Homo sapiens: one gene and its partners. The protein of the gene in region 1 purifies or fractionates together with the protein of each later gene. This does not show direct contact. Each region holds a gene or a part of one and is shown in the gene's direction. Other genes may lie near its edges. The genes, in order: PAX7, AKR1B1, NFIB, NFIA, MYH14 and SLK.

Evidence for each region.
Region 2: the proteins of PAX7 (region 1) and AKR1B1 purify together in Homo sapiens (co-immunoprecipitation; one large-scale study listed by IntAct). This does not show direct contact.
Region 3: the proteins of PAX7 (region 1) and NFIB purify together in Homo sapiens (co-immunoprecipitation; one large-scale study listed by IntAct). This does not show direct contact.
Region 4: the proteins of PAX7 (region 1) and NFIA purify together in Homo sapiens (co-immunoprecipitation; one large-scale study listed by IntAct). This does not show direct contact.
Region 5: the proteins of PAX7 (region 1) and MYH14 purify together in Homo sapiens (affinity purification with mass spectrometry; one large-scale study listed by BioGRID and IntAct). This does not show direct contact.
Region 6: the proteins of PAX7 (region 1) and SLK purify together in Homo sapiens (affinity purification with mass spectrometry; one large-scale study listed by BioGRID and IntAct). This does not show direct contact.

Annotation. Positions count from the first base shown.
Region 1 is NC_000001.11:18,700,346-18,703,845, forward strand, and holds part of PAX7 (paired box protein Pax-7), read left to right. Parts: intron 1-307; coding exon 308-473; intron 474-2,748; coding exon 2,749-2,951; intron 2,952-3,500. UniProt on the Homo sapiens protein: Transcription factor that is involved in the regulation of muscle stem cells proliferation, playing a role in myogenesis and muscle regeneration.
Region 2 is NC_000007.14:134,452,601-134,456,100, reverse strand, and holds part of AKR1B1 (aldo-keto reductase family 1 member B1), read left to right. Parts: intron 1-3,500. UniProt on the Homo sapiens protein: Catalyzes the NADPH-dependent reduction of a wide variety of carbonyl-containing compounds to their corresponding alcohols.
Region 3 is NC_000009.12:14,118,642-14,122,141, reverse strand, and holds part of NFIB (nuclear factor 1 B-type), read left to right. Parts: intron 1-1,517; coding exon 1,518-1,702; intron 1,703-3,500.
Region 4 is NC_000001.11:61,089,061-61,092,560, forward strand, and holds part of NFIA (nuclear factor 1 A-type), read left to right. Parts: intron 1-3,500.
Region 5 is NC_000019.10:50,252,122-50,255,621, forward strand, and holds part of MYH14 (myosin-14), read left to right. Parts: intron 1-517; coding exon 518-632; intron 633-3,098; coding exon 3,099-3,197; intron 3,198-3,500. UniProt on the Homo sapiens protein: Cellular myosin that appears to play a role in cytokinesis, cell shape, and specialized functions such as secretion and capping.
Region 6 is NC_000010.11:104,022,640-104,026,139, forward strand, and holds part of SLK (STE20-like serine/threonine-protein kinase), read left to right. Parts: intron 1-2,934; coding exon 2,935-3,081; 3' UTR 3,082-3,500. UniProt on the Homo sapiens protein: Mediates apoptosis and actin stress fiber dissolution.

The DNA of each region.
Region 1 (3,500 bases):
AGGACTGGCTGGACCACTGACTCAACCTGGCCCATGGACAAGTCACCCACTTTCTTTGGGTCTTGGTTTCCTCATCTGTAAAATGGGGATAATATAGAACCCCCTCACTGGTGGTTGTGAGGGCAGAATGGGGTCATACCTATGAAATCACTCTGCAAAGCGTCCTGTGCTGCACAATGCCGGGGCCTGCAGGAGGATGCTGGCTGGATCAGAGGGTGATGGCTTGGGCAACTGGGTCTACATGTGTTGCAGCTCTCTGCCAGGAACCTGGCCGAGGGGTCTCCATTCTCTGCTCTCCACCTCCCAGGTCTGGTTCAGTAACCGCCGCGCCCGTTGGCGTAAGCAGGCAGGAGCCAACCAGCTGGCGGCGTTCAACCACCTTCTGCCAGGAGGCTTCCCACCCACCGGCATGCCCACGCTGCCCCCCTACCAGCTGCCGGACTCCACCTACCCCACCACCACCATCTCCCAAGGTGAGTGTCTTGGCCCCGTCCTGCCATCTCAGTGGTGCCCCTTCCCTTCTTTCTTTACTTTCACTTACAAAGGCTCTTCTTTTTTTTATGACCATTTCTTACTTTCATGTAAGCAGGCTATTGAGAGCAAAAAGATGCAATCCTGCCCTTGAAATTCTTGGCCCTGACACAGAGCAGCCAGGTGGGATCCCCAAGGCAGCCCCTGTGCACCTGTTTAGAACTGAGCTTCTCAAATGGTACCAGGGATCTCCCAGGAATGTTACTAAAATGCTGGTCTGGGTGAGGCCTGAGATTCTGCACTTCTAAAAATCCCCCTGGGAATGCCCAAGCTGGTGGAGCATGGACCAGGCTTTGAGCAGCGAGGATTTGGAGGAGAGGACACTGGGCTGACCTGCTTTGGAGGGAAAGGAACGGATTCTGCAGGGACTTTGGGACCATGCATAGTCACAGTCTTTGAGTTTTTAAAGTGAGAGAGTGACATGAGTACAAATGTGCGTGTGAGTGCGTGCATGAGTGTGTGCGTGTGAGTGCATGAGTGTGTGCGTATGAGTGAGTGAATGAGTGTGTGTGGGTGTGTGCATGAGTGTGTGCGTATGAGTGAGTGAATGAGTGTGTGAGTGTGTGCATGAGTGTGTGCATGTGCACGTGTGTGTGTACTTGTTGGGAAGATGTTGGAATCATGTTGGAATCATTTTTTTTTTTAGATTATGTTGGTCTCCAACCTATGACAAAAAAAAAATTTACAAAGGGGCTTAAATAATTTGCTGGGACCTCATTTTCTTGCCTCTCTCTGGAAAGATCCATTTTCAGAGATGGAATAAAGGTCAGGGTCTCCTTTGAGGACCTGAGAAAGCTCCCTATGAGGGATTCCCCCCACTCTGGGGTGAACAGCCCTAGGCCAGGCTGGGCTGAGAGGGGTCAGAGCCCTCAGGTCCTCCTGGGAAGGAGGCCTCACTTGAGCCCAGTTCTCCCAGTGGCTTGAAGTATAAGATTCCCTTCTAGCGCTGGAAAGGGATAGGCAGAGGGAAGAAGGTGAGTGGGTGAGAGAGGATAGGGGATCAGGGGGCCTTGGGAGAGGAAAGGAAAGTCTGGGTCTCAGGAGAGAAGGTGAGCCTTGTAGGGGAAGAAGGGTTCCCTCCCCCTACCTCACCGGAACTTGCTCTCATTCTGTCACCCCAGAAGCCCTGTCCCAGCACACACCAGGAATACCACTACTTGATATTGGCCTCATGGGCTGGGCGCAGTGGCTCACAACTGCAATCCCAGCACTTTGGGAGGCTGAGGCGGGCGGATCTCTTGAGGCCAGGAGTTGGAGACCAGCCTGGCCAACATGTGAAACTCCATCTCTACTAAAAATACAAAAAAAAAAAATTATCTGGGCATGGTGGCGTGCATCTGTAATCCCAGCTACTCAGGAGGCTGAGGCAGGGGAATCGCTTGAACCCGGGAGGCGGAGGTTGCACGGAGCCCAGATCGCGCCACTGCACTCCAGCCTGGGCGACAGAGTGAGACTCCATCTCAAAAAAAAAATTAAATTTTAAAAAAGATAGCTACCTCATAAAGCCTCCTCTTAAATGACTGGCAGGCTGGAGTTCTGGAGGCCAAGGAAAGAGTCAAAGAGCCCCCTCCAGCACCACTGTGACTTGGTAAGATAAATTGAACCAGTGTTGAGGGTCCCAGCCTCTGCAAAGCTGCACAGAAGGGCCCAGAGAGCGCAGAATAACAGCCTAGCAGCAAAGAACAGAGATGGCTCCAGAGTTAGGCCATTCAAATCCTGGTCCCATCACTCACTAGCCTGGTCATCTTGTGTGAGTGCCCCAAGCCCACCAAGCCTTGGTTTCTTCATCTGTAAAATGGGATTTACAGTCTTGCTTCATACCCTTAGGCAGCGTTTGTAAAAGCACCTGGCAAGTGGTTGACGCTCACAAAACAAAACAGACTGGGTAGATTAACAGAGTCCCCATCAAGGTCTGGTTTTCAGCCCAGCTGACATTTATTGAGCACCTACTGTGTGCCAAGCACTGAGGAACAGTGGCTGGTGTGCACCTGTCTAGGGGTTGTCTAGAATGTTGGGTTGTCAGTCAAGACCTGGCCAGTGCCTACTGCCCTGCCCAGGAGCCAACTTGTCTCATCCCAGGTAGCATGAGAGGGTGGTCCCTTCCCTCCAAGGAATGGAGACCGGGAGGAGGAGTCTCTTGGCTTGCCTTCTGCTCTCAGAGGCCCAGCGTCCAGGATGAGGCCACTTGCTTAGGACCTCTCTTGGGTCTCTCTACAGATGGGGGCAGCACTGTGCACCGGCCTCAGCCCCTGCCACCGTCCACCATGCACCAGGGCGGGCTGGCTGCAGCGGCTGCAGCCGCCGACACCAGCTCTGCCTACGGAGCCCGCCACAGCTTCTCCAGCTACTCTGACAGCTTCATGAATCCGGCGGCGCCCTCCAACCACATGAACCCGGTCAGCAACGGCCTGTCTCCTCAGGTAGGTGGTCTCAGCCCAGCACCCAGGATCCCACCGCCACGAAAGTCAGACATCTGCAGACAGCACGTGGGTGGAAGCCTTGCGCTCTTTCCTGTAGCAGGCTGACTGCGGTTGGGGTTTTTGTTCTAGAATCAGGAATCCTCCCTGGACTCTGTCCTGTGCTCTTGGCTTTTCACCAGGAGTGACCAATTCCTGAAAGGCAGGACCATGTCCTATTGGTGGAGAGAATTGTGGATGGGGTTCTGGGCCGGTAACTCTACCCTGATTGGTCAATGGAATTCTGTTTGCTCCTGTGTGATTGGTTAAGTCATTCATTGCCTCGGGGTGCTGTTAGAAGTCACAGGACCTGCTTTGGATGAAGTCAGAGAGATAATGTGGGCGCTGATGGTGGTTATTGGTGAGTTTGGGGAACAGGACTTGATAATGCCGGAAGTCCCAATGAACTTGAGGAACTGATGGGCTCATTTTTTTGTAGCTTCAGCAGGCTCCCAAATATCCGTGGGGGAAGGGATGAAGTGCCCCCTGCCACATGTCTGTGGTGAGAATCCA
Region 2 (3,500 bases), on another chromosome or scaffold:
AGGCAGGTGCAGTTCCTTATTCTCCTGGGTCTTCCCATGCCGTAGCGGCTGTGTTGTACCTTTCAGACCCTCAGCAGGGCTCTGGTAGTCTCTACTCTTGAAGGTCCTCAAACTCCATTCTCTTCTCAGGTGAGGGTTTCAGGCAGATGGGGAGACCATCTCTGCCCCAGACCCATGTGGCTTGGACAGGGTTTCTTTCTGGCAGTCTTGCCTTCTACATTGGATAGTAAACAATTACACCTGTAATCCCAGCACTTTGGAAGGCCAAGGCGGGTGGATCACCTGAGGTCAGGAGTTCGAGACCAGCTGGCCAACATGGTGAAACCCCCTCTCTACTAAAAATACAAAAATTAGCCCGGCATGGTGGTGGGTGCCTGTAATCCCAGCTGCTTGGGAGGCTGAGGCAGGAGAATCACTTGAATCCAGAAGGTAGAGGTTGCCATGATCTGAGATTGTGCCACTGCACTCCAGCCTAGGCGACAAGAGCAAAAAAAAACTCGGTCTCAGAAACAACAACAACAACAAAAACCCATCACAGCATTGTAAAGCCAGGAAGCTTTTAAAACAGAGATGATGTCTGGTGCCCACCAGTGTCTTGTTACTGATAGTGTTTTTAATCTAGTTGAAAAATTGTTGGAGGTAAAAGTCATTGTAAGTCTCCTATGTATGCTCACAGAATACTCCTAGGGCTGAAGGTACAACTATGTTTCTCCATCTTTTGCCATGATCACTACCTCCCTCCCACCTAGGAGCCTTGTGAGACTTTTTTTTCCCCTAATTTGCCCCAAAATAAAATTGTAATATCAGAGATAATATTGTACTTCTGCTTATGGCCAGTAGCCTTCTAGAGGGTCACAAGCTGTTCTATAAGCTGAGGGGGGTTTTTTTGCCCCAGAGAACTAATTTTTGTCTCTTTGGGGACAATAGCACCCACTTTAAGAATGCATGAGGTAAAAGAAAATGTGCCAGGAAAGACTTGCTCCACCTTCCCCAAGTGGGGTAAGCTTGTGATGGCCCAAGATCCTTGGATGGGGTGAGGGTTGAGGCGCTGTGGGCATGGAGGTAACACAGGAGCCAGATTTACTGTTCACTTCCCTGGTGTCTCTAAAGCCCCCATCTCTTCCTCTTCAAGACCAAAGACATTTAAATAAGCCCTGCCCCTACAGGGTCAGTCCTGGTCCATGCACATCTCAACTAGTTGGAAACAGCAGTGTCTTAGAATTTGGGACAAATTGATTAAAACAGAACAGGAGGAAGTTAATTTCTGCTGCCAAACCTGATTCTGAGTGATCGTTTCCTGTTCCTTGCTCCAGGATTATCAGCACAGCATTCTCATGCTTCCTACTCAGGACCGTTTCTTTACCCAAAGTGAAGTTTCCTTTGCCCCCTCCCCTTATCCTTTGATTTCAGTAGTAACACCTGCTAACTAGAGAACATTTCAAAAATGAAGAGTTCCCTGTTCCCAGAGATCCCCGTGGTTAATATTGCAAAATATCCAATCTCTGAGATACTTTGGTTTTACCATAAACACTGTCCTGTGACCGTCTTCCTGTTTAGCACTGTGGCTTGCTTTTTGACTTGCAGAGGGAAGAGAGGGAGGGGTATCTTGAAGTAACTAGCAAGACCTGTAAGCAAAAGGGAAGAAGACTAGGTTTTAAAAGGAGTGTTGTATCTGTGTAGGAGGGAGACACTGATTTTAGTTATCAGTGTCTCAGAGTTGGTATTAGCCAGCCGGTGTTATCAAAGGAGGAACTAGGACCGCTGTCTTGAAGGAGGTGGTGGAGGACTCAAGGGCAGAGGCTTCTCACTGCCATCACTTGGTGCCATCAGCCCAGAGCATTTCAAGTCACTGCCCAACGTAGAGCTTTGCAGAGCCAGAAGTTCTGGGAGGAATGGGCATGCATGGTTTTGCCCATCAAGGGCACACAGATTAGTGGCAGGATCGGGTTAGAAACATGTAGGATTTGTATGATTGAGCTGTAATTGGAGTGTTTCATATACTGCATTTCTACAGCTCTCATCAGTAATGGCTGTGCCTGGATGCCACCCAGCATGTTTTCATAGTTTACCTTCTTTTTAGAAGTCAATCTGGACCCCTCCTTCTGTTTGCATTTTCTCTTTGTTGACATGGAATGGGGAGATGTTGTCATCCTGTGTTGGCATTCCCAAGTTTAGTGAATGGTTTCTCACCATAGCTTAAGTTGGCTGCTTCATTTTTCATAAGGCAAATTAGTTTCTCTCAGGGAAGGGCTGTACATTGAGATCATTAACATAGAATGTGGTTGTGGATCCTCGTACATTTTCATTGCAGAGGTGACTTTTTCCCTCCAGCACCTTTGATCAGCCTCCCAGCACACATGTCTCCAGCGAATGGCACATATCCAAGGAATGATCAGCAGCTTCTTCGTGACCTCTTGCAGTCATTGCTGTCTTTTACTTTTCTAGAAAAACCTCTCACAACTTTTTTTTCATGTCGTGCCAACGCAAGCTTGATTATCCTAGTCTGTGCTCTTTTGGTTCCAAAGAACTGAAAAACCACTTTAATCTTAAGCAGGAAAAAAAAAAGTGTGTTTGGGGTGGGGATTGATTGACTTCCCCAAACAACAGCCGCTGACATTAGGTGTTTGAGATTCAGGGTTGTAAATGTTGTCACCAGGATTTGGCCTCCCTCCACTTTCCTGCAGCAGCTCCAGGCTGACATTCTCCCAGCTCAGTGACCCCAGCAGAACCGGGGCTGGACTCAGGGGTTCCAATTCAAGTGCAAAGATTGAGTCTTATGGCCTGGATTGAGTCATGTTCCTGTCCCCGCACCAGTTGCATGGCAGGCAGTGCGTGGCTAGGCTGAGCCTGCGGAGTGTGCCCTCAGCAGCTCCTCAGAGAAAAATCAATCAAGGCGCCATCAAGCCTGGAGAAAGTTCAGTGTGTCCTGGGCAGTTTCCTGCCTGGGCCCCAGTTGTTCTTTCTGGGGTAGGGATGTCCTCTGCTCTCCCTGCTGTCATCAGTGGTGGTTGTGCCCGGACACCACTCAGGGCCTGTGGTAAGGCATTCTTTCTGGAAATTGAGATTCTCTGTTCCTTCAACCGTGCAGAGTGGGGAAGGCTGCAAGAGCAGCTTCTGAGGTCCTCCAGTCAAATAAGAGGTCGCCAGGTCCTCTGAGGGTCGTCCCCTCTTAACCCACACCTTCGATGAGCATCCCCACCCTGCCTCGCTGCTCCCTCTGAGGTGGAGAGTGAGCTCCATGCTAACAGGCTCTGGTAACGGGCTTGTTCAACTGGGCCCCTTTCTTCCCCAAAGCCTGTTGAAAATAGCTGATGTCAAAACACAGATGTCTGCAGCTGCTATGGCCCTGGGGGGTTTTTCTTTTCATTTGTTTCTACCCCAGCTCTCCAAAGGAATGTGCTCTGTTCATTCAACAGCCCGCTGCACATGTTTATTGCTCAGCTCTGTGATCATAGCAGGATAGTGAAAGTTGGGGGATACGTGTCCATGCAGCCTACCTG
Region 3 (3,500 bases), on another chromosome or scaffold:
GATTTCCCTTTGTAGGTTATGGCTAAAATTTATTTTTTTTCATATTCTTTAAGTTGTCTCATAAAACATTAGACATTTATCGTTTATAATTTCCTATTATTTGAATTGGGAAATATTAAAATAGAAAGACATTTACTTTTCACTTCTACATATATTTGTTGGTAGTTTTAATTTGTATTTCTATGATTATTTCTCTCAACATTTTAGAGATAATGATCATACGATTACACTCTTTCTCCATCTTTCAAACTTAAGATTTATATTTCAAAAACTGAACAATAAATTATAAGAATACTAATGTTGAGAAGTTATAGTAAAATTGAACATTGTCCACATTGCATGTGTTTTATATAGTATTTCCCTTTATAAAATTATTATAAAATATGTGATATATGGGTAAAGTAATATACTTACCTATATGAAAGCTTAAATTTTCATTGCTGTGTGTTTTATTCTTGGTTTTATATTAACAATATCTTTTAAACTACATATAGTAAAAGTTAAAGTAGAAAGAAAAATAGTTGCAGAATAGAGCTCTTTTGGTTTTGAAAGAAACATTTTCATTAGGAGAGTTTCTAGCTCTATGTTCCAATGTTCATAAGCATTTATACCATGACCAGACAATTATAAATGACATGAGATGATGTTGTATTAGTTATTGTCTTTCCTTCTAAACAATTGCCAGGTAGGATGTACAGGGAAACGTTTTATTTGAAATTGAATTTCACTTTTGTTTTTAATTTTGGTAGAAAATTTTTGGCTCTTTTGCCCTCTACTTAATGCTGTGACTTGCTCTGGACTTATGAGACAAAGTGTTTTTTGTTTGTTTGTTTGTTTGAGATGGGGCTTATGAGACAAAATGTTTTTTGTTTGTTTGTTTGTTTGAGATGGGGTTCTGTCACCAGGTTGGAGCGCAATGGCGCCATCTCGGCTCACTGCAACCTCCGTCTACTGGATTCAAGTGATTCTCCTGCCTTAAGCTCCCAAGTAGCTGGGATTACAGGTGCCCATCACCATGCTCAGCTAATTTTTTGTATTTTCAGTAGCGATGGGGTTTCACCATGTTAGCCAGGCTGGTCTCGAACTCCTGACCTCAGGTGATCCACCTGCCCCAGCCGCCCAAAGTGCTGGGATTACAGGTGTGAGCTACTGCACCCGGCCTAAAGATTTTATAATCAAAGAATATGTTTTCAACGGGATATATCTTTGCTCAAAGAAGTGTTTTATCAAGTATTGACATAACCTATAAAAGAGAAACTGATTTTGTAACCACTCACAGAGCCAGGAAGCAAGATTGTTAATTTTCTAGAGTGATGTTTTATCTCTGTGTAGTTAGCCGTACTGGTGTTGAGAATAAAAATGAAAAAGTAACTGTTGATTTAGGAGAGCTTGGTTAAATCATGGGGACAAAAATGAATGGTTACCAGTTTTGTAGTTTCACAGCATTCTTCAGGATCAGAATGGAGCAATAAGGTAACCAGCTGATGAGTCAATCTTTCCTTTTCTGTCTTCTGCAGTCATCTCAACTCGAACTCCACCTCCACCTTCACCGTTGCCATTTCCAACACAAGCTATCCTTCCTCCAGCCCCATCGAGCTACTTTTCTCATCCAACAATCAGATATCCTCCCCACCTGAATCCTCAGGATACTCTGAAGAACTATGTACCTTCTTATGACCCATCCAGTCCACAAACCAGCCAGGTAAAAATAAGAGAGAAAATAAGATTAGCACCTAAGGGAGATGGGACAGATCTAATTCTGAGACACAAAGGTTAGTCAGACAGTGTGTCTGGCAGAACGTCAAGCCTTGAAATCCATCTTCAGGAAGTTGCTTGGTGACTCAATAAGTTTTTATTTAAAGGTGGCTGAATGACAGGTAGGAAGTGTGTTGCCCCAAAGGGTACATTTGTGAAGATGGTTTAATGTTTTTGGATTTTCACTGACTGAAGGGAAAGTTTATGCAGAAAGTACATTGACAGGAAAGCTCTGGGCTGGAGTTCACACCTCTTAAATACCTGGTTTGACACAGAGACAATGTGCTTATTTCAGGCAGGAGTAAGGTATGTGCTAAAATAAACACACACAAAAGAACTTACAGTTGTATTTATAGACCAACTATTAGGTATTAAAATAAGCTTTGGTAATGTAAACATTCTCAGTGTTTGATGACTACTTGAATATTCTTTGCAGAGACATGACTTACATTTAATAATGAGTGACATTACTAGAAGCGTCTTTCTTTTTTTTGGAAACATTGTGCAGTGGTTTTGGGGATTCATTTTGTAAGTGTAGTGACTCATGAGCATTTCTCACTCCCCTAGACATATGGTTTCTTCTACCAAGAGGTTACTTCATAGGAATTTGGTATATGAGCATTTTCCACAATCAAGTAGACAGTCTTTGTGCCAGACCTGGGGCTATCAATAATTGTAATATCTAAAACATGTAATGTAATTTTGATATTAGGATCTGATATTTAGCTTTGCTGCTTTACCTCTAAGACTCCTGTCCACTTATTATACCTTTTAATATTTTGGAGAATTTTCACAAACATTCCGTCATTACTACGGTGGAACATTCCTGAAATGCTAGTAAATAGTGTGTGTCTATCAATTTAAATTAGCAAAGAAAGGTGAGAAAAAAATCCCTTTGGTCTTAATTTGTTAAAATGAAACAAAATGGTCCTTTCTGAACTTTTAATTTAGAATAACAACGCATCCAGGACCCTTTGGGTTACTTAAAAAGTTATCATTACTTTTAGTTTGACTGACTGAGATATTAAACTCAATATTGAATTTTGAATTTGAAGTTAAAATTATTATTTGTATTTTAGAAGAAAATGTTAAAATGTTGTAGCACTTTTCATGACTGAAGTACTAAAGACAGCTAAGTGAGAGTGGGATCTTAGTATATCGTTTAGAAATAAAATTTGTTGTCAGCTCATGGATTCAGAAGTCTCAGTTCCATAGAGCATTTTGCTAGACTCAGCTGGGAACAGTGCACACAAGGTCTGATTTTAATTTGTGTAGAATTTCCATGAATAACAAAGTCTAATTAAGACATCCATTAAAAGTCCTTAACGTTAATTCAGTGTGGAAAATCTTAGAGTTCCATTGGATTTTTTTTTTAACTGATGTCTTAATTAGGCACTGTTAGGGGAAAAATTATGCAAATTAAAATCAGGCCCTTAGTGTTACACATTTCTTTAATTATTCAGTGCTTGTTTTACGTATATTTCAATTTCTTTATAAGTTAAGAGGGCATATTAGGTGATAATCTGCCTATATTGTTCTCAGTTTTTCTTCACTTTTTCAAGATACATATCACCTTCTAAGGAAGCATATTACTCTCATCTCAAAAAAAAAAAAAAAAGAAAAAGAAAAACTAGCAACAAAAAAACTCTCAGGATTTTGTATAATAGGAACCGTGTATAAAGTAGAATAATCCTTTCCTAATGCTGTTAGCTTCACCTTCAGACAAGACATCTCTCTTTTCTATC
Region 4 (3,500 bases), about 42 Mb from region 1:
TAGTTGGTTTTCTGCTGGGAGTGTTTTTAACCTACTGAGGCCTCTTGAACCCCTTGCCAATTAAGAAGTTGGAGGTAGATTACTATCAAATTGCTGATCATTTAGGAAGGAAAAATAATCACATTAATACGCAGACTTAGTAGCTTTGTATTTAGGAATTCTTAGTGTTGTCTCAGATAGCTAAGGGAAACAAACCAGCTCTTTCAGTAATTGATGGAGAGGTTAATATTAAAAATAACCAACCTGTATATTGCATGAACACATTGAAAAATTGCTATTGATAATTGATGTAGTGAGTTGCTTTGATTGTAAAATCTTAAATTTTTTTTCTGTTTTTTCAAGGCATGTCTTACCTGTGCATGTTTCAGTGTTTAGAATAGCATGCAGGATAAAACTATTGAGGACTGGATAAAATAATGCATTTTTACTTTGTTCCTTTCGTCTTGTTTTAGACAAAAGGCTCATTGTGCTATGTGAACGCTCAGGTCTTGTGTAACTTGTTGACTTTATATATGTACATATCGGTCTTGCTAGATTACCTTCATGGCAGTTACTTGAGCCAGATGGAAGAAAGAGGGTTGTGGAATCCTACCAGTAGGTTGTTTTGGGGTTCAAATATTTAACGTTTTTTTTTCTTTTTTTTTTTTTTTTTTTACAAAGGAGAGATGTTACCTGTAAAAACACTGCACTTTTCTTCAAAACATTTTTAATTCTAAAAATGTTAGTGAGTTTTTAAAGAAGCCAGCTGATAGCCTGTTCTCTATTATTTTTCTCAATATATGTTTTAGAAAGAGAACTTTTGTTATCCATCTGCCCTTACATAAGAAACTGGAGAAATTAGCTTTGCAAGCATGTCACATCATCATTTGCATTCTGTTGGCAGGGGATAGATGAGTATTTTAGAGGATGTGAGCTGTAAGTGTTTCAAATATTTGGGTTTTCAAAAATGTATACTTAATTATAAGAATTGCCTTTTGCTTTAGCCAATTCTGGGTAGCAAGAATGAAAAGTCAGCACCTCTCAAGTGACCTCTAAGCAGGAATAAGTAGCCCTTTTTTAACCCACTCTTAACCCTGTTGTTGTTCATTTGTTTTGTTTACTGAAAAAGTAAAGTTAAAATTTTTAAAAAATGTGTCTGCATATGTTAAGCACAGCAAAACGCAAAAAAAGTATAGGTGTTACAGGTGCTTTCAAGAAGCACTCTTTAAAATCTTGTTTTTACCTTTTAGATATTTAGAAAAATATAACCTATAAATTATCCCGAATAGATGACCAACATCGAAACTTGAAAGTGCCAACAGGTGATGCAGATCATGATGTGTGCTTCCATATAAGATAACATCAAAATGAAATACCTGTGAAGTTTTTGTCGGTGTAAGCAGTGTCCATTCTAAGTTTTCGTCTTAAACATTTCTCTGTTATTTAAAGAAATGCAATCTTTTCGCTGTTCTCATTACGTGCCTTCTTTTTCGTCGTTGGTTTGTTACTGTGCTATTGCTCCCAATCCTTGAACTAACACAGTTGTTGGTTGTTGCAATGCCTGAAGGGGTTATGTTGGTAAAATGACATTTAGAAGGTTACTTAGGAGAGTTAGCATCCTTATTGCTTATGAAAGATTTATTGACAGCAGCATAGATCAGACTACTCTTCGGTTTGGTTTTCCTGATGTATCCCAGAATCCCTTGTTATGCCTGAATGCCAGCCAAATGTTTGGCCATTGGTTTTCACGGGACCGCAGTAATGGCTGCTTCTCTGTGCGCGCAACAGGAAGACTGTAAAAGAAAATATTAAGGGTCTTTTGTCTGAAAATATTTCAAATTTGATTTAAGAGATTCAGAGACCTGTTATTTGTGGAAGGGAAGCTGCCAATACAAATATGAGGTAGATCGGTCAACTTACATACAACTGATTTGACAAGCATCTGTTATAATACTGAAGATTTGTAAACACTAAACAATGTTTTTACCTCCTTAAAAGTTTTGAGAACTTGCCAGTATTGGCAGGAGGCAGAGACTCTGAAACGTGCTTCAAGATACATGCCAAAACCATTGTGGCCTTTTCACCTATAATGCGTTTTTTCTCGCTCTTTCTTTTAAATTGTTATATTTTTTTCCTTTCCAGAATGCCTTTTTTTCCCCCTAGATGGTCATAGAAATTAGATCTTCTTTTCCTTCTGAAATTTGTGTGTAATAATTCTTGCTTTATGTGTCCACCTTTCTTTGGTAGGAAGTTGAAATCTCAGAACATACGTGAGAATACTAGAAGCAAATGCAGAATCAATCTTTTTTTTTTTAAAGCGGAGGTGATTTATTCTAAGACTTATTGACATGCTAAAATATAATACATAAACTACATTCCAGTTTTTTCCCTCTAAATCCAGTGGCATTAGAACTGTGAATTTTGTGGCTGATAAGCAGTAACAAGTGTAATGAAATTGGAGTGATTTCATAAGCCTGAGAATTTCATCTTGTTAAAAGAACAAAACCATTTTATGCCCTTAATTTGGTCTCAATTTGAGTTGTCCTTCCCATGTATCATATGACAACTTGGGGATACTATGGTATTGTGGCAAATGGTTTTCTTTGTGGGTGTGTAACAGTAAAGCTAATTTATGACCAGTCTTTACCAGATGATCTGTATCAGAATCTACAATATACCCGGCACGTGGCAAGGTCACAATTTAAGTTGTTAAGGTCATAACCTTAGCCACCAGGCATTTGACCTTTTAGATAAAGTTAACCTTTGTTCATTAGTAGGCACTCAACCGAGAAGTTTCTGGAGAGTTGTTGTTTTTTTTTTTTTAACCACTTCTGTATAAACTTCTGGTAATGTAATCAGATTCTAGAAAGATTCTCAGTCAAATTAGTTAGATTTTGTGAAAGGTTATACTTTTTAAGGACTCATTTCTTGGATAGAGGCAGGTTGCTATTTTTAGGCCATAGAATGACAGTTTCACAATTTATATTTGATATTATTACCTGCCATGGGGTAGAATAAAAGCTTGGAGGCAGCTGTGTGGGGACATTTAAAATCTAAAATTAAACAAATTAATTTATGTTTAATTCAACTAAGGCCTTTGCTAATTTTCAAGTGACATTAGGCCTAAAAGCTAAATCACAGTGAGCCATCTTCACTTTTTGCAGATGAGGAATTTTCTAACATTAGAAGTATTTTTAGCAGTCTTAAAATTCAGTTTGAAAGATTAATAAGTGACCACAATTTGTCAGGTAATTGCTTTAATTGTTAATTAGCCAGTGACAAAGCAAGTTGCTGTTGTCCTAATGGCAGCAGTATGAGTACTTGTTAGTTTTAAGGTAGAAAGAGAACACTTTTGCACGGTAATCTTTTAGTGCAGTAGTTACTGATTGCTTCCATGCTGCTACCATTATTACCTTTACTTAATTTTGCTTGCATCAGGAATAGCAAAGATCCTTTCAATCACTGAAGGAGCTGTTTCAGTGTCTCGGAAGCCTGATACCTGTCCTATAAACCTACTCAAC
Region 5 (3,500 bases), on another chromosome or scaffold:
CAGCCCTCTGCTAGGCCGTGAGTCAGACCTGGGCCCTGCCCTCGGGGGACCGCTGTCTGGTGGGGGGCACATATGCAGAGAATTGTAGCGGCCAAGATCGTGACTCTATGGAGCCCCACAGCAAAGCCCTGAGTACCCAGAAGGAGCCAGTGGTGTGAAACCCACAGAGACAGAACCCCAGGTGGCAGGAACCGCAGGGGTAAAACCCCGAGGTGGGAGTAAGCTCGCATGTTTGAGGAACAGTGCGGAGGCCAGGGTGGCTGGAGCGGAATGAATAGGAAGAAAGTGGTGGTGGTGGAGGTCACAGAGGTGGCAGGGGGCATAGAGGGGAAGGAGAGAGAGGGGACCATGCTGGTGGGGTGCAGTTCAGAATATGGACACAAGGTGGCACCAGTGCTCGCTTGTCCATGGTGAGCTCCAGACCTGGGAGTCTCAGAGCTTCTGGAAGGCTCCTTAGGAAATCCAGAGAATGTCTGAGCCTGCAAGTCATCGCCCTCCTCTACCTGACTTCATTCAGGTCGACTACAAGGCCAACGAGTGGCTGATGAAAAACATGGACCCTCTGAATGACAACGTCGCAGCCTTGCTCCACCAGAGCACAGACCGGCTGACGGCAGAGATCTGGAAAGACGGTGAGGACCCACTTCCCCCACCCCGGCTCTAGGGGTCTGTGCGGCCATTCTCCAAATCCACAGCGTGAGCACCTTTGTTTCAGAGGCGGAGGTCTGAACCTGAGTTTTCTGCTCAGACCCAGAATAGCCAGTGTCACAAATAGTATTTCAAATCAGTGATGGATGGATCCATAGATTAATTGATTGACTATTGATTTGATTGATAAGCCAGCATCCTTCTCAAGGATAAAGCACTCCGCCTTAATCAGAAACGTGGCAAAGATACCCACTAACACTACTGTTAAACATCGTTTTTTTAGCAATACTAGCCTATGCAATCAGACCAGAAAAAGTATGAATATCGAACAGGAAGAAGTAAACTTATTATTTTTAGATGGCCTGTGTTCCCTAAACAATTAGGAGATTTGGCTGGGCATGGTGGCTCACACCTGTAATCCCAGCACTTTTGGGAGGCCAAGGTGGGCGGATCACTTGAGGTCAGGAGTTCAAGACCAGCCTGGCCAACATGGTGAAACCCTGTCTCTACTAAAAGTACAACAATTAGCCAGATGTCCTGGTGCATGCCTGTAGTCTCAGCTACTAGGGAGGCTGAGGCAGGAGAATCGCTTGAATCTGGGAGGTAGAGGTTTCAGTGAGCCAAGATTGTGTCACTGCAATCCAGCCTGGGTGACAGTGTGAGACTCTGTCCCAAAAAAAAAAAAAAAATTCTACTGAGAAATAATTTATAACAATAAGAGAACACAGAATGATGATCTTTTGCAGGTCAGTCAACTTTTAGGCTTTGCTTTCTTTGTTTTCTTACAAAGTTCCCTTCACGCCCCCAGGGAAGAAGAAAGAAAAAACAGACTGAGATACAGTTTTGGAGGGCTTTCCTGCCCCCAAAAGGCCCCCATGAGTGTGACTGTCTTTTTGGATTGACACTTCTAGGGGTCATAGGCAGAGATGCCAAATGCCCTGTGGTAGGACTCTGACCTTTTCCAAGCCTTTTCTGCCACTGCCCCTGCCCCCCCATCCTTAGAGGAGGTTTGAGAAATGGTTTTAGAAAGCTGGCAGAACTGGCATCCTGTTTTTTCCAGGTTCCAAGTTTCTGGCATTTGTCAGTTTGCCTTAATCTTTTATTGACATGAAAAGGTAGCTGTAGAAATACCAGTCCATGCAATTTGGCAAGAAAACAAAATGAGCGGCCAGGCGCGGTGGCTCACGCCTGTAATCCCAGCACTTTGGGAGGCCAAGGTGGACGGGTCACCTGAGGTCGGGAGTTTGAGACCAGCCTGACCAACATGGAGAAACCTCATCTCTACTAAAAATACAAAATTAGCTGGGCGTGGTGGCACATGCCTGTAATCCCAGCTACTCGGGGGGCTGAGGCAGGGGAATCGCTTGAACCCGGGAGGTGGAGGTTGTGGTGAGCCGAGATCGTGCCATTGCACTCCAGCCTGGGCAACAAGAGTGAAACTCTGTCTCAAAAAAAAAAAAAAAGGAAAAAAAAAGAAAACAAAATGAGCAAGGTGAGTGGTTCCCAAAACACACTCACAGAGCAAAACAGCATGGAGGGTCTTGATCTTGTGAGCTCATGCTAGAAAGATAGATTTTATTTTTATGTCTCATATAGTATTTACACAAGGAGATTGGAAAGCAGAGTTTGATGTTCAGGAACAGAACCAGATTATGCTACGAGAATCATCTCCCGGCTGAAAATCTGCTGCCCTTTTAAAATATTTGTGCTGTCTTCATAAACACATGATTCTCCACAGTGAGCCCTCATTTGTCACACTCTGTGTGTGCCTGACTCTCAGAGGGTTCCAAAAGAAAAAGTGGAAGCTGCAAAACCTCCTGGCTCAGCCTCCCGAGTAGCTGGGGAGCTGCCATAATGTCACTTCCTCCATAATCCTCCTAAACAAAGCTAGTCACAAGGTCTTCCCAGATTCAAGGAGCTGCAAGACACAGGCAAAGGGTGTCAATACAGGGGAAAGTGGGGAATCGGGGCCATTTTTGCCCAATCTCTGCTAGAGCTGCTTTGAGCCCAGAATTGGATGCCCAGCATCCTGACAGCCCAGGGAAAAACGGAAATGAGATTAGCTCTCCTCTGAGAGGCAAAAACAACAAGTGGCCTGGGAGCATCAAGTTCATTCTTGAGCTTCCTGGCAGCCAGAGCAAAAAGGGCAACCTACTAAAACAGACACAACCTCTAGAGGGAGAGATTTTTTATTCTTTGCACTGAATTCTTACAGAGGACATTCGTCCTTTTGGCCAACAGTGTGTGGATACAAAGATGAACAGGAGTTCAGAAGTTTATGGCCAACATTCTGGTTTTCCATCTTGCTTTGCTCTGTACTGTTGACTAATAACCCTCTCCTCTTTTTCTTCCTGCCACCTCCTCTCCTTCCCCTCTTTTCATGCATCTCTCTCCGCCATCTCTCTGCCATCTCCCCTCCACCCACCCACACATCTGTCCTCACTCCCCAGAACATGGGGGCTTCCAGCAGTTCTCTTTCCTTGGCTCCTTCCCACCGTCGCCCCCAGGATCTGCAGAGAGGTGCAGCTCTGCTATTTCTCCGCCAGGGGGTGGGTGTCTCTGTGCATCGATGGGTGAGGCTTGCTGGAGGAGGAGGGTGGACCTGTTGGGCTGGGGACCTGGTTTTGAACATCTGTCCCCTCTCCTCTTACTGTGGAGGTCTCTCACTCTTCCTTTCCCTCCTTGTTGGCTCCCTTGGAAGTTTCCAGACTCTGTAGCAGCAGAACCCCTTCTTCTAACTAAACTGCATGTAAAAGTACAAACAAGCGTGATAGTACCAGCTCGCGTTTCTTGAGCACTTACTATGTGCCGTTCACCATGTGAAACCCCTTTAGAATTATCAACACCCCATT
Region 6 (3,500 bases), on another chromosome or scaffold:
CTCTGTCGCCCAGGCTGGAGTGCAATGGTGCGATCTCGGCTCACTGCAACCTCCGCCTCCTGGGTTCAAGCAATTCCTCTGCCTCAGCCCCCCAGGTAGCTGGGATTACAGGCATCCACCACCACACCTGGCTAATTTTTGTATTTTCAGTAGAGACGGGGCTTCGCCATGTTGGCCAGGCTGGTCTCAAACTCCAAACCTTAGGTGATCCACCCACTTGGGCCTCTCGAAGTGCTGGGATTATAGGCGTGAGCCACCATGCCCGGCCCATAGTGTGGCTTTTTAATTTAAATTTTCTTTATTGTTAAACTTTTTGAATAGGTAATGCATTCATGTAGTTTAGAATTCAAAAGGTACAGAATTGTAAACGGTGTAAAATCTCCTTTACCTACTTGCAGCCTAGCATCTGCTTCAAACACCCTAGTTGAACTAGTTGACAGTGGTCACAAGTGAGTTGCTAATAGTCAAATCCTATGGCCTTATCTAACTGTTCTCCTTAAAAGTCTTGTTTCTTAAAATTCTCCTCTCACCTGGCTTTTGTGACACAGCTCTGCTCATTCTCTGTGTTCTTTATCCCCTTTTGTCTCCTGAAATGTAGACATTTCTCAGTTTTGCCCCTGTAGTAAAGAACAGTCTTTACCTTGATGATTTTATTGCTAGTCATGGCTTCAACTGTTGCAGATAGACAACTCCAAAACTTAAATGGTAGCAGTTGTATAGAGCATGAATTGTAAAGTCATACAGGTGTGTGTTCAGATCTCAGTACTGACACTTACTGATTAATTTTCTCACTTACCATTTCTAGGCCTAGTTTTCCTAATTTGTAAAATGAGAGTGATACTACCTATTTGGTGTTGTTTATATAGCAGTTATCTAGTACCTGAGCTATAGTAATGGTTCAGTGAATGGTTGCTGTTGCTATTATTGTTTCTTGTTTTTATTATCAGTTTGGGCAGTAAGCGCCCATTTTCCATCTGGGTGTTATGCTCCTCCTCATTTCACCTAGGCCTTGTGACCTTTTTTGGTCACTGTATCTCAGTAGCACCTATACTGAACCCCAAACATTCTGTATCTGCTCTCCTTTCTTTGTTTTTCTTTGTAACAATTCATCACCACCAGACACATTTGTTTATTGTCCCCTCTTGCGAGTGAGAATATAAACTCCTTAAAAGCATGCCATGATCGCTTCATTTATTGATATGTACCCAGTTTCTAGAACAGTTCCTGGCACATTGTACAGATGACTACATACCTGTTCAGTGTTGACTAAAGAGTATAAACTCAGTAGAGAGAAAACCAAACTCAGCATCCTTTTCCTTCATCTCCATCTCACCTTTCCCCACTCACTGCAGGCCCACTCACTGCCAGATGTTCCTTCATCTCCATCTCACGTTTCCGCGCTCACTGCAGGCCACTCACCATCAGATGTTCTTTTCTGCATTCCTGTTCTCTTAACTGACATCTACGCTAGAAACCAGAATTATTTTTCATTTCTGTCACACCCTACATTCAATCAGGCGCCAATTAATTTGGACTCTTTTTCATAATGTGTCTCCTTTCTTTCTCACTGCTATCCTGGTGCTTGTTTAAATTATTCAGGAATTTCCTAATGGGCCTTCTAATTTCTAGTTCCCTTTCCTTTCTTCCCACTCGCCTGCCATCACCGGAGGATTTATCCTCAAGGACATCTCTTGACACTGTCATACTGATGTTGAGAAATCTTCAGTTCCATCAGAGTAAAATGTAAATTAATGCCTCAGTTTGACTGTGAAGCCTTCATAGTGCCACACCTGAGTCACAGTCACCCTTTCTAGCTTCCTCTCCCACTAGCCACTTTGTTCCCAGTCCAGGTTCCAGCCTTGGGTATAATGGCCACTCCTCATACCAGCTCCTCGGCTTCCTGCCTTTGTGCTGTGTTTCGGCTCTGTTTCTGGCATGCCTTCCCTATGCTCCCTATCAAATTCTTATCTTTCCTTCAGCACTAAGCTCATGTTTCACCTCTTTTGAGAACCCCTCCTATATCCTTCCTTCTTTTCCTGTGCTTTGTACCTCTACAGCACCACTTATCCCTGAATCACTTCTCCACAAAGTCATTGATACCTGTAACAAAATGCCATAAACTGGAGGCTGGGGAGTCTGAGACCAGGGTGCCAACACGGTCACGCTTTGATGAGGGCCCTCATTTGGGTTACAGACTGCCGACTTCTCACCGTGTCCTCACAGGGCGGAATAACAACTCTCTTTAGCCCCTCATGAAGGCACTCATCCCATTTGGAGGGCTCTACCTCATGACCTCATCCCTTCTCAGAGGTCCCACCTTCTATGCATAGTATCCGCACATTAGGGATTAGGTTTTTATATGGATTTGGGGGGCACAGACATTCACATCACAATGGTGCCTCTTACATTTCTCAAGCACTTATTTTTGCTCTGTATTATGGGGATAAAAATGATTCTGATTTAAGTTGTACCTTTAAACAGCTTATATTATAGTCTAGTGTGAAAGAAAATACAGGCGCATCGTAACTAAAATAACAAGTAGGCAGGGGTAAGTGCCATGTGGGAGAAACACATAATAGTTAATAATAGGTACCATATATTAGAGTGCATAGTATGTGTAAGTACATCATTATCACATTTATACTTCACATAGCAAATTATCCCTATTTTTACAGCAGAGGAATTGAGGAATTAAATGGTTCTCTAATATAGGGAAGTTAAGTAATGGACCCAAATTGTCCATTTATGTGGCTGAGCTGGACTTGCACATAGGGCTGTACAAAGCTTATGATCTTAAAAAATTGAGCAGGCGTGTCTTCTTGAGGATTATATACAAAGAAAGTGTTTTGGACAAGTAGTTTTATCTTGGCTGTCAGCATAAATTCTATATATAATACCAGCACATAGCAATTTCTTTTTCCCTTTCTTTTTAAGACACTGGAAGAAGAGTTTGCCAGGAAACTACAGGAACAGGAAGTATTCTTTAAAATGACTGGGGAGTCTGAATGCCTTAACCCATCAACACAGAGCCGGATTTCCAAATTTTATCCTATTCCCAGCTTGCATTCCACCGGATCATAACAAAGGGAAGCATTCTGTGCGTGGGTTTGGCTCTTTCAGTATGTCATTCTGTTCTCATCTTCTGCCACAGTCTCTCAGATAGCTCATGAAGACAATCACCTGCCTCACCTTCTAGGTGTTTTCCTTTTTTGTTTTTTTTGTTTTGTTTTGTTTTTAAGCAAAGATGAAGGGAAAACGAACTAAGACAGACGCTAGGCCATGTTGGCAAAGTAGCATCTTGGTGACTAAGGTGACTTTGTATATTCATCTTAAAAATTATGTTCTTTAGACACTGCTACCTGAAAACTGTTGGAGAAATAATGTTTAAAGTTATTTAAGAAAAACTGTTACATCACTAAGTATTAATAAATTCTTCTTACCTGACGTAACTTCTCAATGCCTAAATTCTGTAGTTGAAGCTCTGCTGCAGAGAGTTGGGA